Homo sapiens: one gene and its partners. The protein of the gene in region 1 purifies or fractionates together with the protein of each later gene. This does not show direct contact. Each region holds a gene or a part of one and is shown on either strand. Other genes may lie near its edges. The genes, in order: GGPS1, GTF2H2C, NMI, VCPKMT, METTL14 and NCR3LG1.

The links.
Region 2: the proteins of GGPS1 (region 1) and GTF2H2C fractionate together in Homo sapiens (co-fractionation; one large-scale study listed by BioGRID). This does not show direct contact.
Region 3: the proteins of GGPS1 (region 1) and NMI fractionate together in Homo sapiens (co-fractionation; one large-scale study listed by BioGRID). This does not show direct contact.
Region 4: the proteins of GGPS1 (region 1) and VCPKMT fractionate together in Homo sapiens (co-fractionation; one large-scale study listed by BioGRID). This does not show direct contact.
Region 5: the proteins of GGPS1 (region 1) and METTL14 fractionate together in Homo sapiens (co-fractionation; one large-scale study listed by BioGRID). This does not show direct contact.
Region 6: the proteins of GGPS1 (region 1) and NCR3LG1 purify together in Homo sapiens (affinity purification with mass spectrometry; one large-scale study listed by BioGRID and IntAct). This does not show direct contact.

Annotation. Positions count from the first base shown.
Region 1 is NC_000001.11:235,341,801-235,345,393, reverse strand, and holds the end of GGPS1 (geranylgeranyl pyrophosphate synthase), read right to left. Parts: intron 3,384-3,593; coding exon 2,622-3,383; 3' UTR 862-2,621; downstream 1-861. UniProt on the Homo sapiens protein: Catalyzes the trans-addition of the three molecules of IPP onto DMAPP to form geranylgeranyl pyrophosphate, an important precursor of carotenoids and geranylated proteins.
Region 2 is NC_000005.10:69,558,745-69,563,188, reverse strand, and holds the start of GTF2H2C (general transcription factor IIH subunit 2-like protein), read right to left. Parts: upstream 2,999-4,444; 5' UTR 2,786-2,998; exon of another isoform or gene 2,588-2,785; intron 517-2,587; 5' UTR 419-516; intron 1-418. UniProt on the Homo sapiens protein: Component of the core-TFIIH basal transcription factor involved in nucleotide excision repair (NER) of DNA and, when complexed to CAK, in RNA transcription by RNA polymerase II.
Region 3 is NC_000002.12:151,272,510-151,276,370, forward strand, and holds part of NMI (N-myc-interactor), read right to left. Parts: intron 3,356-3,861; coding exon 3,249-3,355; intron 3,162-3,248; coding exon 2,975-3,161; intron 1-2,974. UniProt on the Homo sapiens protein: Acts as a signaling pathway regulator involved in innate immune system response.
Region 4 is NC_000014.9:50,110,643-50,113,721, forward strand, and holds part of VCPKMT (protein N-lysine methyltransferase METTL21D), read right to left. Parts: intron 2,871-3,079; coding exon of another isoform or gene 2,868-2,870; exon of another isoform or gene 2,078-2,867; coding exon 1,973-2,077; exon of another isoform or gene 1,444-1,972; coding exon of another isoform or gene 1,300-1,443; exon of another isoform or gene 1-1,299. UniProt on the Homo sapiens protein: Protein N-lysine methyltransferase that specifically trimethylates 'Lys-315' of VCP/p97; this modification may decrease VCP ATPase activity.
Region 5 is NC_000004.12:118,698,791-118,702,651, reverse strand, and holds part of METTL14 (N(6)-adenosine-methyltransferase non-catalytic subunit METTL14), read right to left. Parts: intron 2,103-3,861; coding exon 2,010-2,102; intron 1-2,009. UniProt on the Homo sapiens protein: The METTL3-METTL14 heterodimer forms a N6-methyltransferase complex that methylates adenosine residues at the N(6) position of some mRNAs and regulates the circadian clock, differentiation of embryonic stem cells and cortical neurogenesis.
Region 6 is NC_000011.10:17,368,800-17,372,299, forward strand, and holds part of NCR3LG1 (natural cytotoxicity triggering receptor 3 ligand 1 precursor), read left to right. Parts: intron 1-67; coding exon 68-165; intron 166-3,206; coding exon 3,207-3,500. UniProt on the Homo sapiens protein: Triggers NCR3-dependent natural killer cell activation.

The DNA of each region.
Region 1 (3,593 bases):
GGCGTTGCAGAGGCTGGAATGTGTAAACTCACAATGGTTCCAACAGCAGTTGTGAAAATGTTCCCCAGCAGCACTGAGCAACACGGATGCACAAAGAACGTGGATGTTTGGATTTATCCAGGACTGGGAGTTGGCAAGATAAGAATGGGCAAGGAAAGGAGAAAAGTGATCTGAGAGTGAATGCTCTTTAAGTGTCATTGAAGTGAGTGACTATAGAGTACAGGTGAGGTAGAGAAGGAAGTAAAGTAGAAAGAAGTTCACAGAGTGAACAGAGAACAGTTGATGGTTTTAAGATCTTGCCAAGTTCAGAAGGTGGTTTATGGCAACATAACTGGCATTCATTTTTCTGTGTTAATAGCTATGACTACAGATCAAGTGAAGAGTTTTGATTATTCTACAGGTAAAATGACTGTTAAAAGTCCCCAATTTGGCTGGGTGCGGTGGCTCATGCCTGTAATCCCAGTACTTTGGGAGGCCGAGGCAGCTGGATCACCTGAGGTCAGAAGTTCAACACCAGCCTGGCCAACATGGTGAAACCCCATCTCTACTTAAAAAAAAAAAAAAAAAAAAAATTAGCCAGGCAACATGGCAGGCATCTGTAATCCCAGCTACTTAGGAGGCTGAGGCAGGAGAATCGCTTGAACCCGGGAGGTGGAGGTTGCAGTGAGCTGAGATCACGCCATTGCACTCCAGCCTGGGCAACAAGAGTGAAACTCCGTCTCAAAAAAAAAAAAAAAAATTCCCAATTCAATGACAAACATTTCTGTTATTGACAAAGGCAAGATAAAATTAACAAATGAATAATGAAGAACACCAGGCCAAAATTAATTTGATAGGCAAGGAACAAATCTACTTAAGCAATTTTTATACTTAAAGGTAGACATTTTAATTTGTTTCTATAGTCAGTGTTAGATTTTTAAAAATGCTTTTTAAAAGTATGGGTTCATAAAGTTCAACTTTCCATACTATAACATCAATAGCCATGATTTTAACAGGTTTCCTTATCACTATTAAAATGGGAGATTTAAACTATTTTAAAAGTTACTAAAGACAGCACCCAACTTTTCAAAGATTTAGGTTGAATGCTTGGGTGAGGATTTCTCATACAAATATATGGTAAATAGATCCTAAGTAACATACTATAGAACCAAGCAAAACATGTTTCTAAGGGAAACATAAAACTTTCATTTTGGGATGTCAACAAATCAAATATTGAAATCAGCTTTTTTTTTTTTTTTTTTTGTCCTACCTCTTGGGCCACAGATGACTTCAGTGGCTTGGGTGTAGAAACTACAGAAAACTGGTAACCAGGTCAGGGTTAAGGCACTAAAAAGCTAATTAGTGTTTGATATTAAGCCTTTGGTTACTTTTCAGTCAGGCCCTCTCAGGCTAACACTTTCCTTTAATCAGGGCGATTAAAGATGCCTACTCACTTTCCATTCAAGCACCTACTGTCTTCAAGTCGGGGTGGTGATGTGGGCGGGAAGGAAAAGCGCATTTTTCCATGCTTTTGTACTTAAGGTAAGAAAACAACCCTTTTAAGATTGTCACTATCAATGATGGGGAAATATAATAAGGTTCAAAGGCTCCCTTCTAAAATATCCCATACTCTCTTTTTCCGCTTCCCAATTGGAAAGGGAATGCTGTACCCATATACTAACCAGTTTGGGGCACATAAATGTTACAAGGGAGAAAAAAAGATTTAGACTAGCATGTGAATTTCATCAAGCAGAGACACCTTGGTTAAAAAGCAAAACTTGTGGGGTGGAGAGGAAGGAAAAAAGGAAAACCTAAGAAAAAGGACCGGAGTGCTCACTGTTTATCATTATCAGCCCTTTTTTTTGAGACGGAGTCTCGCTCTGTCACCCAGGCTGGAGTGCAGAGGCACTATCTCGGCTCACTGCAAGCTCCGCCTCCTGGGTTCACACCATTCTCCTGCCTCAGCCTCCCGAGTAGCTGGGACTACAGGCGCCCACCACCACGCCCAGCTAATTTTTTGTATTTTTAGTAGAGACAGGGTTTCACCGTGTCAGGATGGTCTCGATCTCCTGACCTCGTGATCTGCCCGCCTCGGCCTCCCAAAGTGCTGGGATTACAGGCGTGAGCCACCGCGCCCAGCCCATTATCAGCCTTTTCATAGAAGACTTCAGTGAGGGTGTTTCCGGGGGGAAAAGTGAGATATTCCTTACAGCAGCGTTTAGGAAAAAAAGAGATTTGTGGTCTTTGGTCCAGCTAGCTAATAGAAACTGGCTTGGAACTGCCCAGATAGTACAGTTAGAAAGTGTATGGATAAAAATTCCTGGAAGCAAGTCTTTTTTATTGACGGAATAAACACAACATTGATGGTAGTAGGATAGAGTTGGTGGCAATGTCCTGTCACTGCAATTATGACATTCAAATCAGACCTACATAACTGTGGCTGCTTTTGATTCTTTCAACTTTGAATTTTGATTATCTGTACAGAGGGGCTTCTAAATGAAAACGAATTCACTTGCACCACCCCTACTCACCTATTTACTGTTTCTGGAGAATAACAAATTTTTTAAAAGGTGGTAAGGCTAAAAGACAAAAAAAAGATTAACTAAAATAAGCTATGAGGTCCAATCAAGAATGGCTTAACATTATTCATTTTCTTCTTTGAACATCTTACTTAAGTGTTTTACTAAGGCTACTAGCTCAGGGTTCCCACCACGTGCATCAATCTGTTTATAGGCTTTAGCTTCAAGCTCTTTAAGGGTATTACGAGTGTATTCAAAAGAACCTACATCCTCAAGATAATGTACACAGTATTTTTTTATATCTATGTTTTCTGTTCTCTGGCGCAAGATATTCTGCACCTGGGTGCTTTCAGGCCTTGACCAAATAGCATGAATAGTAGGAAATGAGAACTTTCCCTCTGTCAGATCTTCACAAAAACTTTTGTTTTCACTATATTCTTTGGAGTGTAGATTAGCATAATCATCCCTAATTTGGAAAAAGAGCCCAAGTGTATTAAGTAGCGGTTTTAAATCTTCTTTGTAATCAGAGAACAACTGCATGAGACCTACTGCTAATCCAAACAGTCCACCTGTTTTCTGCAGCACCATAGCTTTATATTCTTCTTCAGTGGGACAAGTGTAATTATCCCTCCAGTAAATATCTAGGCCTTGTCCCTGATGGAGTTCCAAAAGCTGGCGGGTAAAAAGCTTCACTGCATCTGGGTGATCAAGGGTTAAGACTTTCTCCAAGCCAAGGAAATACACGTAATTGGCAGAATTGATGACAGATGGGATTCCATAGATGCTGTGGGCCACTGGAAAGCCACGTCGGAGTTTTGAGTTGTCTTCAATATCATCGATGAGTAAACTGGCATTATGCAACATTTCTGTCACTTCAATAATAATCTAATAAAAAAATTGAAAATTTCACTTATTTGAACTATTCAAAACTTACTCAGTTTAATTAACAGATTATGAAAGTCTCAGGTGTGTTAATTTTCACAACTAATAAATATTTAGCAACCTCAATATAAAATAATATCTTGCATGAGGACTAAATTCAATCAAGAACTAGGAATATTTTTATGCGACAGCTATTAATTTCTTGGGGATTAA
Region 2 (4,444 bases), on another chromosome or scaffold:
GACATCTGTAATTCTAGCACTTTGGGAGACTAAAGCAGGTGATCACTTGAGGTCAGGAGTTTGAAAATTAGCTAGGAGGTTGGTGGGAGCGGGCCCCTGTAATCCCAGCTACTGGGGAGGCTGAGACAAGAGGACTGCTTGAACCCAGGAGGCACGGAGGCTGCAGTGAGCCGAGATCAGGTCACTGCACTCCAGCCTGGGCAACAGAATGAGACCCTGCCTCAAAAAAGAAAGAAAAGAAAGGAAAGAAAGAGAGAGAGAGAAACGGGCACGGTGGCTCATCCTGTAATCCCAGCACTTTGGGAGGCCGAGGCCAGCAGATCATTTCAGGTCAGGAGTTCAAGACCAGGCTGGCCAACATAGTGAAATGCCGTCTCCACTAGAAATACAAAAATCAGCAGGGCCTAGTGGTGCACACCTGTAATCCCAGCTACTCGGGAGGCTGAGGCAGGAGAATCACTTGAACCTGGGAGGTAGACACTGGAGCGAGCCAAGGTTGTGCCACTGCACTCCAGCCTGGGTGAGAGAGCGAGACTCTGTCATTCATTCATTCATGCACAAATAAATGTCCTCATCACACCTCCATCCTCCCCAATGCAATCTCCCTCCCAACTCCACCACCTCGTGGCTCACTGCAACCTCCACCTCCCGGGTTCAAGTGATTCTCCTGTCTCAGCCTCCCAAGGAGCTGGGATTGCAGGCGCGTGCCACCATGCCCAGCTAATTTTTGTATTTTTAGTACAGTCAGGGTTTTGCCATGTTTTATATTTTTGTAGAGCCAGGGTTTCGCCTGACTTGCCAGGCTGATCTCAAACTCCTGACCTCAAGTGATCTGCCTGTAAACAGAATATTTTTGTTTCTTTTTTTGTTTTAAGGCGGAGTTTCACTCACCACCCAGGCTGGAGTGCAATGGCGCGATCTCGGCTCACTGCAACCTCCGCCTCCGAGTTCAAGTGATCCTCCTGCCTCAGCCTCCCGAGTAGCTGGGATTACAAGAGCCCACCACCACACCTGGCTAACTTTTGTGTTTTTAGTAGAAATGGGGTTTTGCCATGGTGGCCAGGCTGGTCTCGAACTCCTGACCTCAGGTGACCCACTCACCTCGGCCTCCCAAAGTGCTGGGATTACAGGCGTGAGTCACCACACCCAGCCTCAACTGAACATTTTGCTCCTCCCTGTTTTCTGTTACGTATTGTGAACTTTAAAAATGAAAAACTCGCATAACGTTCTCAACGTTTTTAAACTCAAATTCTTCGCAGGGCACAGTGGCTCAAACCTGTAATCCCAGCACTTTGAGAGGCCAAGGCAAAAGGATTGCTTGAGTTCAGGCGCTCAGATCAGCCTGGGCAATAACCTTGTCTCTACAAAACATCAAAAAATTAGCTGGGCGAGGTGGCGAGTACTTGAGTCCCAGCTACTTGGGAAGCAAAAGTGGGAGGATGGCTTGAGCCCAGGAGAGTCGAGGCTACTATGTTCACTACTGCACTCCAGACTGGGTGACAGAGTGAGACCCTATCTCAAAATAAATAAAATAATTACAAATATATAATAAATATTATAAATATAAAAGTAAATAGCAACTGAGAGACTTTTGGCTGACCATATCAAAGGAATTCTTTTTTTTCTTTTTTTTCTGAGACAAGAGTCTTGCTCTGTCGCCCAAGCTTGGAGTGCAGTGACGCAATCTCGGCTCACTGCAACCTCCGCCTCCAGGGTTCAAGCGATTCTACTGTCTCTTCTGTCTCCCGAATAGCTGAGATTAAGGCACACGCCACCACAGCTAACCTTTTTATTTTTAGTAGAGACGGGGTTTCACCAGCCTGTTGGCCAGGCCTGGTCTCGAATTCCTGACCACAACTGGTCCGCCCACCTCGGTCCTCCAAAGTGTTGGGATTACAGGCATGAGTCACCACGCCCGGCTAAAAGGACTTCTTAATTAGAGCTGCCTGCAATGGGAAATCCGACTGGACAGGAGGTATTAAGGTCCCTAAAACTGCAGACGTTCAATGGGAAGTCTGATTGTAAACATGCATGCTGTTTAAAGGATTCATGCATCCTGAAGATGGACTTTGTAAAGATCTCCAATGGCCTGTCACTTCCCAACAGTCCATTTTCTTCTTAAAAATATCACCGAGGCCAGGTGGGTGGCTCACACCTGTAATCCCAGCACTGTGGGAGGCCGAGGCGGGAGGATCACGAGGTCAAGAAATCAAGACCATCCTAGCCAACATGGTGAAACCCCGTCTCTACTGAAAATACAAAAATTAGCTGGGCGTGGTGGCACGCGCCTGTAGTTCCAGCTACTCGGGAGGCTGAGGAAGGAGAATCGCTTGAACCCGGGAGGTGGAGGTTGCAGTGAGCCGAGATCGCGCCGCTGCACTCCAGCCTGGCGACAGGGCGAGACTCCGTCTCGAAGAAAAAAAAATTTTTTTAAGTGATCTGTTTCCTGGAATCCAACCCCAAACAATCCACGTTCCTCAGCATAAGCCTACTGGTGTGATTCCCGTTACATGAGCTCGGAATGCTATCTGCCAACAAATGAGAGCACCAAACATCCCAATTTAAGAAGCTTTTCTTCACACCTTACCAAGCTATGTGAAACTGGCAAGGGTGATTACTGTCCTTGTTTTTCAGGTATGGGATTCAGGCTCAGAGGTTGGTCACTTTCTCAAGCGGGTCACAAACTCGAACCCTGAACCATCATTTCTAAAAGTCGCGCTTTTACTTAGGGAGAGACGGCCTGCAGCTTCCCTCCCTACTCTGCGGCTCCCCAGACGAAAGTTACCTTCCTCTGCCTTCACAAGCTCCTTCACATCCTCCTTCCCTATGAGCCCAGGCAGGGCAATTCAACCTCCGTTCCCCGCCACGAAAACGCTCCCAGCCGCCTAGCTAGTCAGACGGCCTGCCCCACCTCTGCGCCTCACAGACTTCCACACGCGGACTCACCGGCGCCGCTAGAAGGACTCTCAGCCGGAAACTCAGCCCGACACTCCTCTCCGCCGCTTTAGGGGCGCCCCGGAAGTCATTCCGCCGCGCCCTGCGGCCACGCCGAAACGTTCCGGATGCTGCAGAGTGCAGCTGCCGGAGCGGGGCGCTCAGGTGCAGGGCATGGCCTCCGCTGAGTTGGGGCGCGGAAAGGGACGGTGTTCCAGCTGGAATTCGCAGAGAACCGGAAAGAGTGATCGCCATTCGCTCTCGGAAGGTCGAAGGCTCTGCAGCCATCGACCTGGGTTCTGAGGAGCTCGATCTTGTCTTTCTACTTCTAAAAGGTTGGGATGAAGGACCCTGGCCACAGAAGTAAAGCCAGAATTATCCTTGCTTCTTGCTGTGTATTTCAGGACTCCTCCATTGCTCTTGCTGTTCATTCAACAAACATTGAGCATCTACTTTGAGCCTGATGCATGTCTAAGCACTGAGGAAATAACAATGAAAAACTGACAAAAATCCTTGCTCTCGTGGAGTTTTCCTTCTCCAAGGGGAGTCAGTATGAAGAAAAACATATACTATATGAAATGGTGATAATGCTGTGGAGAAAAACTAAGCACTGAAGGGGAGAAGTTTGCAGTTTAAAATAGGGTGGCCAGGCCGGGTGCGATGGTTCACGCCTGTAATCCCAGGCATGGTGATTTGGGAGGCCGAGCGGGGGTGGATCATCGGAGGGCAGGACTTCGAGACCAGCCTGGCCAACATAGTGAATTCCGTCTCTACTAAAAATACAAAAACATTAGCCGGGCGTGCTGGCAGGCGCCTGTAATCCCAGCTACTCGGGAGGCTGAGGCAGGAGAATCGCTTGAATCCAGGAGGCACAGGTTGCAGTGAGCCAACCTTGCACTCCAGCCTGGGTGACAGAGACTTCATCTCAAAAAATAAAATAGGGTGGCCAGAGGAGTCCTCGCTGGGAAGACAGTTAAGCCATGACCTGAATGAGGAAGGGTGTTAACCCTGCTGATACCTAGGGGAAAAGCTCTTCAGACAAAGAGAGCTGCAAGTGCAAAGGCCCTGAGGTAGAAGTGCATTGGGGTCTTTGACGACTGCAGGAGTGAGCAGGGGATGAGTGGTGGAAGCTGCAATCAGAAGGGTAAGGTGGGGAGGAGAGGCTGTGAGCACTGTTAAGAACTTTGGGGGAATTGTGATGGCTTGGACCAGCAGCTGGTGAGAAGTGACTGAATTCTAAATCTTACCAATACACTGGATGTGTGTTATGAGAAAAGAATCAAGGATACCTCCATAGTCTTTAGCTGAGCAACTGAAAGGTTGGGGTTGCAATTATTAAAATGTTGGCGGGGTGGGTAAGATCAATTCAGTTTTGGACAAGTTGTATGACTGCCAATTAACACAAGTGGAATTACTGGCATTTCCCATACTTGAGAAATGGAGAGGCAGTGCACCCCCAGATGAGAAAAGGGTTAGGAATAACACAAAGGAACTGCAGAAGCTAGGGCCT
Region 3 (3,861 bases), on another chromosome or scaffold:
GTATGACAGTTCCCCAAAATATTAAAATAGAACATGATATGATCCAGCAATTCAACTTCTGGGTATATACCCGAAACAACTGAAAGCAGGGACTCGGACAGATACTTGCTCGTTAATGCTCAGAGCAGTATTTTTCACAATAGGCAAAAGGTGGAAGCAACCCAAGCATCCACCAACAGATGAACAGATCAACAAAATGGATATATAAAATACACACACACACAGAGAATATTATTCAGCCTTTAAAAAGGATGAAATTCTGATACATACCACAACATGGATGGACCCTGATAACATTATGCTAACCAAAATAAGACAGACAGGAAAAGGACAAATATTGTATAATTCCACTTGAATGAGGTACCTAGAATAGGCAAATTCATAGAGACAGAAAGTAGAATGATGGTTACCAGGGGCTGGAAGAAGAGGTAATGGAGAATTATTGTTAAATGGGTACAGAGTTTCAGTTTGGGGTGATTAAAAAGTTCTAGAGATGGATAGTGGTGATGGTTGTACAACATTGTGAATGTACTTAGTACCCTTGAATTGTACATTTAAAAATTGTTAAAATGGTAAATTTTATGTTATATATATTTTATCACAGTTAAAAAAAAAAAAAAGAGTACAGGTCCTGAGTCAAATAGACCAGCTTCAGTCCTAGCTCTGCTACTTATGAGCTATGTGGCCTTGGATATGTTGCTTGACTTCTTAAAGCCTCAGTTTCTTTTTCTGTAAAATAAGCATAATTACAGTACCTACCCTGTAGATTATTGTGATGAGTCAGTAAGACACAGTTTATGAAGTATCTGGCATATTTATCTCCAGAATACCTTCACATCCTTCAGTAGTTACCTGCTGGATAACCTATAACCTGCAGAAGTATTTTTCCCATCTGGCTAGATGTAACCTCTAGGAGAACATCCCCAGATGGCCCAAGGACACAGGTTCCAAAGCTAGTATTATCTCTCACAGTAGAGTTATAAATTGCATTCTAGTTTATTTTATTTTATTTATTTTATTTCGGTTTTTTTGAGACCGAGTCTCACTCTGTCACCCAGGCTGGAGTGCAGTGATGCAATCTCAGCTCCCTGCAACCTCCACCCCCCAGGTTCAAGCAATTCTCCTGCCTCAGCCTCCCAAGTAGTTGGGACTATAGGCGTGAGCCAGCACATCCGCTAATTTTTGTATTTTTGGTGGAGAAGGGGTCTCGCGATGTTGGCCAGGCTGGTCTTGAACTCCTGGCCTCAAGTGATCCACCCGCCTCCGCCTCCCAAAGTGCTGGGATTATAGGCATGAGCCACTGCGCCTGGCCAGATTTTTTAAAATCCAAGATATAGACAAACTAACACCAAACAGGCTAAATGAATATATGAATTTGGCAAATTAAAATCTGGATGCTTGACTATGGAAGTTTCCACCAAGTTATTGTTCATTTCCAAGACAACATATTACTGTAGCCCTCAAGACCCCTTCCTTTTATAGCTCTCCCTGACACATCCCACCAGGATGTCCTAAACATCATCCAAAAGCTCAGGTCAAAAATGCATATTGGGCCAGGAGCGGCGGCTCATGCTTGTAATCCCAGCACTTTGGGAAGCCAAGGCGGGCGTATCACTTGAAGTCAGGAGTTCGAGACCAACCTGACCAACATGGTGAAACCCCGTCTCTACCAAAAATACAAAAATTAGTCAGGCATGGTGGCATGCACTTGTAATTCCAGCTACTCGGGAGGCTGAGGTGGGAGAATTGCTTGAACCCGGGAAGCGGAGGTTGCAGTGAGCTGAGATAGTGCCACTGCACTCCAGCCCGGGCGACAGAGCAAGACTCTGTCTCACAAAAAAAAAAAAAAAAAAAAAAAAAAAAAGGATATTGACATGTTTTAATGTGCCCAGAGAAAAGCCTGGAAAGACACCCAAATAACCATAACTAACTAAATAGTAGGAGAAAGGGAAGTTTGAGGAAATGTCTCTTTTTGTTTTTTTTTGAGACGGAGTCTCACTCTGTCGCCCAAGCTGGAGTGCAGTGGCGTAGTCTCGGCTCACTGCAACCTCCACCTCCTGGGTTCAAGCTATTCTCCTGCCTGAGCCCCCCGAGTAGCTGGGATTACAGGCATGCGCCACCACACCTGGCTAATTTTTTTGTATTTTTAGTAGAGACGGGGTTTCACCATGTTAGTCAGGCTGGTCTCGAACTCCTCACCTCATGATCTGCCTGCCTCGGCCTCCCAAAGTGCTGGGATTACAGGCATGAGCCACCGGGCCCGGCCGAAATGTCTCATTTTTACTAAATGTTTGCTCTTCTGTATTATTTCACCTTCCTTAAAAAAGCATGTATTACTTTGTCATGAAAAAATCTAATCCATCAATTTTTTTTTTTAATTTTGTTTTTTGAGACAGGGTCTCACTCTGTCTCCCAGGCTGTAGTGCAGTGGTGCAATCACAGGTCACTGCAGCCTCAACCTCCTGGCCTCAAGTAATCCTCCCACCTCAGCCTCCTGAGTAGCTGGGACCACAGGCACGCACCACTATGCCTGGTGATCTCAGCTCACTGCAACCTCCACCTCCTGGGTTCAAGTGATTCTCCCTGCCTCAGCCTCCCAAGTAGCTGGGATTACAGGCACTTGCCACCATGCCTGGCTAATTTTTGTATTTTTAGTAGAGATGGGGTTTCGCCATGTTGGACAGGCTGGTCTTGAACTCCTGACCTCAAGTGATCCGCCTGCCTCCGCCTCCCAAAGTGCTGGGATTACAGGGGTGAGCCACTGCACCCTGCCTATTTGTAGCAATATTATCTTTCCTAGTACTGTCCCTGGAAATAATTTCCTACACTCTACTATTTTATAAGGTTTTTTAAAATCCCCAATTATCATGCTAATACATTCCAAATAAAAGAAGTAGAATAGGAATACTTTCAGAAACAACAGAACATGACTGAAATGGCAGAGTGTCTGTTAACCTTCTACACCCTTGAGTACCTCCAATCTCCACAAACGTGATGACTGCACTCCCGGACTGTCTGTCATAGTCCACGCGGTCCACCTCTCCGCCTCCATTTCGGGACTTTGAAAAGCTCAGCTCTAGTTTGTCTCTCATTTGATCTTCACGCAATGTGTCAGGAATTTCAGTAACATTGATTTTCATTTTAGAAACTTCTACATAAACCTGGAAAATGATTTGATGTTCAGAAATATGGATGAGAGAAGTGCTTGTGATGAACAGAAATCCAAAAAATTTTAATCATCCTGTTACCTGGAATCTGACTCCTGAATTTAATGGAACTGGCTTGGCCGTAACCTCCAGATTTACATCTTTTATCTGTACATGATGTTTACTCATGCTTACCACATTTTGAGCAACTGAAAAATAATTCAGGAAGGAAGTATTAATTTCCAATATTTTAAGAATTGTTATGCTTTTGGTTTAAGAACAAATTATCCTGAATATTTTTAATTTTCTTTAATATTAAAGGGTCTAATTTTAAAAATTTGGCGGGCGGTGATTCCAAGTGATAATGGTCTTGCTACCAAAGTAGAATATATAATTTGGGGGGTCAGGGGGAAGGAGGACCAGATCTCATTCTGTCACTGAAGCTGGAATGCAGTGATGTGATCATAGCTCACTGTAACCTCAAACTCCTGGGCTCAAGAGATCCTCCCACCTCAGCTTCCAGAATAGCTATGATTACAGGTGCATGCCACCACGCCTAGCTAATTTTTTTAACTTTTTGTAGAGACGAGCTCTCACTTTGTTACCCAGGCTGCTCTGGAACTCCTGGACTCAAGCAATCCTCCTGCATCGGACTCCCAGACAAAGTTCTGGTATTATCAGGATGAGCCACTGCTCTTGGTCCCAAAGTAGAATA
Region 4 (3,079 bases), on another chromosome or scaffold:
TCAAAAAGTTAAACAGAGTTCCCATATAACCTTGCAGTTCTCCTCTAGGTATATACTCAAGAGGTCTGAAAACATGTTCACACAAAAATTTGTAGATGAACGTCCATAGCAGCATTATTCATCTCATCAATGGATGGATAAGGTGTGGTACAGCCACATAAAGGAATATTATTCAGCCACAAAAAGGAGTTAAGTGCTAATGTGTGCTACAATGTAGATAAGGCTCGAGAATACTGTGCTGAGTGAAAGAAGACAGTCACAAGAGGCCACACAGTATGTGACTTGTTACATATGACATGTGCAGAATAGGCAAATCCATAGAGATTAGTGGCTGCCAGCAGCTGGGGACGGGGGTAACAGGGAGTGACTGCTAATGGGTAAGAGGCTTCTCTGGGGGGTGAAATCATTAAAAATTAGAAAGTGGTAATTTACACAACTATGTGAATATACTAAAAACCACCAAATTGTACACCTTAAAAGCGTGAATTTTATGGTATGTGAGTTACATCAACTAAAAAATAAGAGTTTTTTTTTTTGGCCGAAAAAAAAAAAAAAGCCTCTATATTTAGGAAACACAAAATCTTTCTGCCTCCAAAAAATTCTACTTTTAAAACTGCACAACAGCTTCAGTTAACACTAGATCCCTTAAAGCACAAAACAGTTTTTTTTGTATCTGTGGCACCATGCCACATAAATGTTAATCTGAATAATCCCGCTGCTGCCTTTTTACTTAGATTTAGTCCTAACACCTACTTCTGTTCCCTAAGTTTTATTTGCTTTTGACTAGAATTCATATAATCAGAAAACTTTACCACAAACATAATCAAAGCAAAGATGATAGAAAAAGTGTGGGCTTATTGAATCTAGCATCCTTAATTCATAAAACTAATCATCTCCCTGCCTTACACTAGTCACATATACCAAAGGTGCTGGAAATACAAAAATAGATGAAAGGCCAGGCGCAGCAGCTCACACCTGTAATCCCAACAATTTGGGAGGCCGAGGTGGGCAGGTCACTGGAGTCCAGGAGTGCAAAATCAGCCTGGACAACATGGCAAAACCCTGTCTCAACAACAACAAAAAAAATACAAAAATTAGCTGGGCATGGTGGTGCATGCCTATGGTCCCAGGTACTCAGGAGGCTGAGGTGGGAGGATCACTTCTTGAGCCTGCAAGGCAGAGGCTGCAGCAAGCCGAGATTGCACCACTGTACTCCAGCCTGGATGACAGAGTGAGACCCTATTTCAAAAAAAAAAAAGGATGAAGTACAATTCTTCCCTCTTTCTACAGGCTCAAACCCTAGGTGTCACTGAGGCAACCTGCATAAAATGTGATTGTTATACAGGGTAAAACATGCACCAAGAAGCGGGAAAATACATAAATTCTACTTAATTGAGTGCATTTATCTTTTATGGACTCATCTGCCTTGTTGTATTTCATTTCCTGTAAACAATTTTTAATAAGGAAAAGTTCACAAAGGTAAGAGCAGGCATTTTAAAATCTCACAGAGATAAAAGAAACTTATAAATAGCTAATAACTTGTCTGAGGTAATACCCAATTATAGAGCTATACAATTTACGCCTATGGAGAAGCTGGAAAAGGCCTTTAAAAGCGAAGCCTGGCCAGGTATGGTGGCTGATGCCTGTAATCTCAGAACTTTGGGAGGCCGAAGTGGGCGGATCACTTGAGCCCAGGAGTTCGACACCAGTCTAGGCAACACGGTGAAACGTGTCTCTACTTAAAAAATACGAGAAAAAAAAAAAAAAAAAAAAAAAAAGCCTGGCTTTAGAGCAAAAACCCAAGGCAAGATAGATTAAATTATCTTGACAATGAAGTTACTGCCTGAGTCCAGTGAATCATTAGAGCTGTTTCTCCACATCAAAATCAACGCCCATACCACACATATGCCCTGAAATAGTGTCCAGCTGATGAAACCTCCTTGGAGAATGAAGAACTGAGAATGTTATTTACCGATTTTTTCTTTCTGATGTATATAATATGAATATCTTCACTTCGATACTCTTCATCATGTTTTTCCAAAGGAATTTTTTCAAAGTCAAAATCTAGCTGAAGGAGCTATAAATTTAAAAGAGACATACTTCAAATTCAATAATATGAACTGACCTGTGGGTGACAGAAGTCAGAATGCTGGTTACTTTTTTTTTGAGAGTCTCACTCTGTCACCCAGGCTGGAGTGCAGTGGTGCGATCTTGGCTCACTGCAACCTCCACCTCCCTGGGTTCAAGTGATTCTCCTGCCTCAGCCTCCTGAGTAGCTGGGATTACAGGCAAACGACACCACACCCAGCTAATTTTTGTATTTTTAGTAAAGAAAGGGTTTCACCATGTTGACCAGGCTGGTCTCGAACTCCTGACCTCATGATCTGCCCATCTCGGCCTCCCAAAGTGCTGGGATTACAGGCGTGAGCCACCGCGCCTGGTCAGTGGTTACCTTTTGAGTATTGCCTGGGAAAGGGCAGTGTGCAAACCTTCCAAGATCCTGAAAATGTCCTCTATCTTTATGTTGGTAAGTAGTTACTTGGGTGTATACATATGAAAAATTAAGCTCAGCACTTGACTGATACATATGCATTTTACATATGCTTTACCCCAATAAAAGCTGTTTAACAGTACGAAATTTTCATTATGCATCATTTCAAAAGTTCATGAACATTTTTCATATTCAAGAAAAACATGAAAATAAACAAACATTTTAGTATTTGTTACCTGAGGCAGTCATATACCTGCTTTCTCATTAAACCAAAGTAGTCCTTCCAGCAGACAAAACTGCAGGCCTATATAGATGTACCCTCAAAAGGAGTCACTCACAATGTGATAGATTTGTGCCCATATAAGGGTTTGGGTGATCACTAGGGGAAGAAGAGTGACAGATACATAAAACCCTATATACTATATTTTGCAACTTCCTGTAAGTCTTTTCTAACTATTTCAGACAAAAAGTTTAAAAAACAAAAAAAAAGACCCTAAAAATAGACAGGTATCTAGGTTGGAGGTTTCATAAATATGTAGAGAAAAACACAGAAGTAAAAACTTATCACTTGGCAACATGGGAAAACCC
Region 5 (3,861 bases), on another chromosome or scaffold:
AGCACGTGCCACCATGCTGTGCTAATTTTTGTATTTTTAGTAGAGATGGGGTTTCACCATGTTGGCCAGGCTGGTCTTGAACTCCTGGCCTCAAGTGATCTGCCCGCCTCTGTCTCTCAAAGTGCTGGGATGACAGACATGAGCCACTGCGCCCAGCAGAATTTTATTTTAAAATCTCCAAAATCAAGATCAATATCTGTTCCTGTTACTAAATATTTATTTTGCACCAGGTGTCATTAACATCACTATGACCTAAATTCTACATGCCCTAATCCACTAATTTATCAAAATCTCATGAGTATTTCTCATGCTGAATTATTTTTTAAATCATTTTTCGCCGAACTCTCACCAGTATGATAAACTGCTACATTAAGTAAATAAGATAAAAACCTCCTGGATGGCTACTCAGGAGGCTGAAGCAGGAGAACTGCTTCAACTGGGAAGCAGAGTTTTGCAGGGAGCCAAGATCGCACCACTGCACTCCAGCGTGGGCGACAGAGCAAGGCTCTGCCTCAAAAAAAAAAAAAAAAAAAGATAAAAACCTTCTAATCATTTTCAATCTAATTTGGGGAATGAAAGGAAAGATCAAAGTCAGATATTAAAGTTAAAACAAAGTAAACACCAATATACCTATAAAAACATGTATGTTTCGCTCTTACTTTTCTATAGCATCTTGAAGAGCCAACACCAAAAAAATGGAGATATCCAACTGAAACACAGTTATAGTTTACCTTGGAGTTAATAAATGATGGAAGCAATGATGTTACCCAACAGCCTTACTATTTATATAAAGAATATACAGTAATTGTAGAATTTCAGAATTTGGGCACAATCTTATTTCCATATAATCATACTTATTATCTCATATAATCCTACTTAAATTTTTCAATTGTCAAATGGATACCTCCCCAAATTGGAATCATTAAATGAGATAGTTTGGTGTATAATAAATAATATGTCATAAAAACGAAGTGTCAACCAATAAAATGTGACAAAATTGAGACCCTCAAGAGTGAGTATCTTTTTGCCCAAAGTCTTACTGTTACAGCATAGCAGCTGAATTGAGAGCAAAATTAAGACTCCTGATACCTAGTCATAATACTGTTGTTATTCTTGTTTAAAACAGCATATATATTATTTTGTTCCTTTTGGTGAAGGCCAATCAGGGCCAGGGGTGGTGGCTCATGCCTGTAATCCTAACACTTTGGGAGGCTGAGGTGGGAGGATCCCTTGAGCCCAGGAGTTTGGGGCCAGCCTGGGCAACATAACAAGACCTCATCTCTACAAATACTAAAAAAATTAGCCAGGGGTGGTGGTGTGCCTGTGGTCCCAGCTATTAGGAGGCTGATGTGGGAAAACTGCTTGAGTTGAGTCCAGGAGGTCGAGGCTACAGTAAGCCACAATTGTGCCACTGCACGCCAGCCTGGGCAACAGAGTTGGTACCTTGTCTCAAAAAAACAAAAAAAAACAAAAAAAAACTCCAATAAAAAAATAAAAATAAAAAAGCTGTGAAATACAATTAAATATCAGATACTTAAAATAAGTTCAGGTATTATAACTTCTTTCTCATTCATTCATGTCTTCCATATGCTGTGTTACTTTTCCAATTTTATTTGACTTCCATTTGGATTTCAGGAGCCAATGCTCCTGAATACTTTTAGCTACTCATAGAACACTTTTTAGCTACTCATAAAGAATTGTAAATGATACCAAGCAGCTCATTTTTGAGGTATAATTTGGAGTTTCAAATCTTTAAGCTGTTCTCTTCCTGTACTTGTAATGAAGTGTCTTTTGAAAGAGCTACACATTCCTCCCTAGTGCTGGTAAACTAACTTACAAGTATTGCCTTTCTTACGTTCTTTTCTGGACATTTTTTTTTTCTCACTATTTTAGAATTATTTAAGAAACAAAGGACAAAATAACATCCACTTTCAAACATCCTATGCAACATACTGTTACATTTTTTTCTTATTAATTTAAAAATCCACTTTATAAAAGCACCATCTTACCACTCTTCCAAGGTCCAACCCCTCCCCAGAACCACACCAGAGAAAAATAAATGATCGAGGTGCTGCAATCTCATCAATTTCTAACTTCATAATCTGTAAGAAATCAAAACGATATTGCATAAAAGTATTTTGTTTCCCATTCATCCTAAATCCAAAAGAACAACAATTAAGATTTATTAGGATAGATGTGTTCTTTAAGTGTATTAGTTTCCATTAGGAACTAACAGAAAATAAATGTTATCCTTAAAATTACTCGTTCTATTGTTTTGTTACTTTATATACAAACAACATACACACCTGTGCACATATATACATATATACACTTGCTGTTATATGGAAAGAGCTTATAGGAAACAATAGCTATAGACTTATGCAATCTTTTAAGATGGAGCTTGAGACAGATTCTCCAGCAATCTTTTATCATTTACTGAAAAAGAATGAAGCACTTAACTAAGCCCAATGTTAGGGACAAAATTAAAATTAAAATATAACAATAAATGTTTCGGGAGGACTGTGATATCCAGTGTCTACAGAAGAACTTCTCAATAAATCAATATACATATTTTGCTACGATTACTACTTTGAGTCTCAAATGCCAAAAAAAAAAAAATTATTCTCTTTTGACACTAATTCTAAAAGTTAAGTGTTGGTACTTTAATGCTTGTGTTCTTAAGTAAAACACAATGACCACTACCGACTCTCTAACATGAAAAAGAATACCTGTGAAACCCAAACATTTTTCTTATTTACATTTTGTTTATTACATTAACTACTGGCACTTCCTTCAGGACGGTATCTCATAAAAGTTAAAGAACTTAGGGCTCTGGGGCCAGACAAAATTTTTCAGTATGCCAGCCAGAGTTGAAGTACAGTGAAATTAAACTGAAATCAAGAATTTGCATATAAAATAGAATTTCTTTATTTTAAAAACTGTATTAGTTTATCACATATAATTGAAGTTCTTGTACCTTCACTGCTGAAACCTCACGGATTGGCTAGAGAAAACAAAATTCTGCCTAATTATTAATAAAGAACATAATCAGATTCATTGTTTAAATTTTTTCTTTTGAGCAAACTGATAAAAAATGGTTTTTAATATTAATATTCAACTTTAATGAGGATATGGCTAACTAGACATTCTTAAACACTACTGAAAGGAATGTAAATTTATACCTATCTGGAAAACTTCTCTGCAAGAAATATCAAGAGCATTAAGTCTCTAATCTTAAGTCTTAGAAATACCACATTCTGTGCACTTTTCTGATTTTTCAACAATAAACACAGATAACACTTTAAACAGGGAAGGGGAAAAACTTTTACATTATAGGAGCCATACAAATATAAATAAAAGTGCTAGGAGTATTAAAGCTAATAGGAAAAGTTTCAAGGAAGAGGAAGAATTAGAGGTAAATCTTGGAAAAATAGATATTATTAAGAGTAGTAACTACCATTAACTCAGAAAGGGACATGCAAAGATTCTAATCCGTTTCCTAAGAAACACGTCTTCCAGTTTCAGTCCTTTCCTTGCCCCACATCTTTTCTAGAAATGCAGAACGGTCCTGATTACACTCTCCTTGAAACTCACTGTTCCCTTGGTTTCCATTACATTCATACTCTCCTGGTTCTCTTCATTCATCACTGAACAACTCGTTTTTAAATTTCTTTTATATGTAGTCTTTAAATGTAAATGTTTTCCCGGCTTTACTGTCAGTCCACATTTTTATCCTGAGACACGATCCCAGGATAAACTCATCTATTTACATGGATTTTATGTGATAATCCTCTAAAATATGTATTTTGAAACCAGATCTGCCTGTCCTTAGAGTTTCATATTTTATTCCTATGACCTCTT
Region 6 (3,500 bases), on another chromosome or scaffold:
CAGTTGTGTGGTTTCTCTGGCCCTTGCCAGTAGGTTTCCTGCTAATGTTTTCCTTCTCTCTCTGCAGAAACTGAGAAGACAGATAATTTTTCCATTCATTGGTGGCCTATTTCATTCATTGGTGTTGGACTGGTTTTATTAATTGTTTTGATTCCTTGGAAAAAGGTAAGGGGCTCCAAAGCAAAGTTCAGCCCTGTGTCTTGGGCTAGTAAAAAGCTTTTAGAGCAGCTGCTGCCAACCTTACAAGCCTCAAGGGACAGGCCTGCTGGAAAGGACTTTGTCAGTCCCTCTTCACCATCAGGTGTTGGGAATGTTGGCTGTGTTCCAATCCAGTTTCCTATCACAGAGGACCTAGCTGTCACATACCATCTGACCTCTGTATGGTGGTTTGTGACTCTGGGGTGATGTGTTGTAAAGCCTCCCTCTCTTTCTCCATACTAAACAAGTATTATATCTCTGTGAATGAACCAGACTTTAGTGTTCAGACCAGGCCCTGAACTATGTGTGGACTGCTTGTTTTTCTCACACATTTAGAAACTATGGCTTAGAGAGGGGAATTCCTCATATTTTATCTGATCAATAACTGACCACCAGATCTCACTAGTTTGACTAAGAATTTCTAACCCTCACTAGGTATTTCTAAACTAAAACATGTTTCTAAACATTTTTATCCCTGACTATGGCCCAAATAGTAAATAAAACAGCTCAAGCTTTAGAGGCCCAAGAGACCTATGTAAATGTGTTGGTTAAAATAGTTTTAGATAATAAAAGGGCCCTCAATTATTTATGGGCCTGTCAAGGCAAAATCTGCACAACAGCCAGTACATCTCATTATAAATAATTTAGGAGAAGTGGAATAATCAGTCAATTAAGAAAAATGGCCCTTTATCTAAAGTTGGCCATTTAGATTCACGGGACTTATTCCTGTTGGATCTAGGCCATGAGAAAACTGGATAAAAAGTGGTTTTCAAATGTTTCTTGTGGTATTTGTGACTGTTGTCATATTTCTTGCCTTTCTCTGGTTCTGATATTCAGGTGCTATTGAGAGAGGAGGAAGGAAGAAACTAGTCAGGCAGGCAGTTAGGGTGGGCCCTCAGTCAAATTCCTTCAAACAAAAGAACAGCCTGAAAAATCAAACTGCAGATAAGGGAACTTGTACAGGGGGGCTTGCCTAAAACATGCCCACAGCCACATACATTAAAACAAGGCTACACAGGAGACTTGCCTAGACATGCTCACAATAGAAAATTCCATCCCCTGACACATGCACAGTAAGGGGAACAAAGCCACATGGAGTAACTCAAGCTAAGGGCTTGCATGCACACTACGAGGATGGGGTGGAGCTACCAGAAATGTGTGCCTTATGCCTTTGTATTCAGCTGTGAAATGGCAACCCTCTTTTGGGCCCCCTCTCTGCAGTGGAGTGCTTTCTTCTTTTGCTTATTAAACTTTCACTTCAACTTCATCTTTGGGGTCCGCGCTCCTTAATTTTCTTGGTCATGAGACAAAGAACTTCAGGTGATACCTTGGGCAATGAGAGACTGCTACATTGTGGTGCATTGACGAGACTAACATTTTGGTGCATTGGCCAGGAAACATTGGAAGGGTGAGTAGGAGCGGACCTCCAAACTCTTTACTTTCATTTCAGAGGCTTCTTGTCCTCAGATTTTTTCCTGAAGACTGAACAAAACACTGGGCCAGTTAAAAGCTTTTAGAGCGGCTGCCAACCTTATGAGACTTAAGATACAGGCTTGCTGGAGAGGACTTTGTCAGTCCCCCTTCACCCTCAGGTGTTGGGAATGTTGGCTCTGTTCTAATCCAGTTTCCTTTCACAGAGGACTTAGCTGTCACATGGGCTAGAAGGAGGTCCTGGGGCAACTGAAGGTTTCTGTTTGAGGCTACTCCTCAGTGTTACCTGAAGGTCCCTGGACTAACTCCAGCCCCCGACAGCCCGTCAGAATGTTGGCACCAGGACTTCCAGACTTTTCTATTGCATTTTCTTCCTTGCTTTTCGCAGCTACTATGTCTCCTATTCCTTCTTTGTATGCAATGTTGTGGGTGTCTTTATAGCCTGGGGAGATAATCCTGTTAAGCAAAGTCAGCAAGTGCCTTAGTAACGAGGAATGTAACTCAAATAATTGTTGTTTTTGTGATTTCCTTGAGACAGGGGGACTTCAAGATTTCAGCCTAAATTTTCACTTAGGGCCTTTTTGTCCCCCAGTGATAGACATTCATGGCACTCTATAGGGGGATGTTTCACCCCAAGTGAATACCCTTTTCTCCATCAGGTTGTTTTTCCTTCATGTAAGAGCTCAGCATTGCCCAATGAATTTAAGCATTCCCTCTATGAGACAAACTAGTTTTTTTTCTACTGGACAGCATATTATGGGGACAGCCTATTAAGCCCCAAACCTCCCTTTCTGACCTCTGCTTGGAAAGAATTTGTAGTCAGAGTTTTTTCCTAACATTTCAAACCCTATAGTGCTACCTAGTGGGATGGGATTTTTCTCTGTGAGAAGCCTTGTCAGCCCTTTGCCCAAAACCTCTAGTTCCCTGATTCCTTTCTCTCTTATGTCCCTCTTTCAGTGATCAGGCCCCATGCCCTATTTGTAAGCATAAAAACTCCTCTTTCAACAGCCAGGAAGAAGCTACCCTGGGAAGACATATTTTAGCCTCAGTGTTATCCCCATTGGAGGGAGAACAGCCATTCAATTTTTACATTCTTTTGAGGCATCTGTTCTGTACACAGCTACACTGGCATCTAAGTGAGAAAGGGATCTTGTGTTTAGAAATCAATCAGTCTCATTCTCTAGGAATTCATAACTTTGCCAGGGTGGTAGTAAGAGGATGTAAGGATAGAGTTAAGATGTTCCCTTCCTTAAAGGGTCTTGCCCCAATCCAACTACTGCACAATCTCTCCCATGGTTCTAGGGAATCTCAGGAGCCTTATGGGCCAAGTAGGTCTAGGAAACCAGCAGGGCAGAGAGCTAGGACCTTGTGCAGGTGAGCACAAGCTAGCTCCTCCGGATTCATGGGTGAAGGTCATGCTTTGATCCATGGGCAGCACCTATAATGGTCACCAGGAACCTGAGGAAATGGGAGGGAAGAGGAGAAGGGGGACGCCCCTTCCATTTTTCTCTCTGCTGTCGATCACTCCAGAAGGACAAAGGAGACTAAGGGATGCCTTTTCTCTCCTCTTTTTCTAGATATGTAACAAATCATCTTCAGCCTATACTCCTCTCAAGTGCATTCTGAAACACTGGAACTCCTTTGACACTCAGACTCTGAAGAAAGAGCACCTCATATTCTTTTGCACTCGGGCATGGCCGTCTTACCAGCTGCAGGATGGGGAGGCTTGGCCTCCTGAGGGAAGTGTTAATATTAATACTATTCAACAACTAGATGTTTTCTGCAGACAGGAGGGCAAATGGTCCGAGGTTCCTTATGTGCAAGCCTTCTTTGCCTTGCGAGACAACCCAGATCTTTGTCAGTGTTGTAGA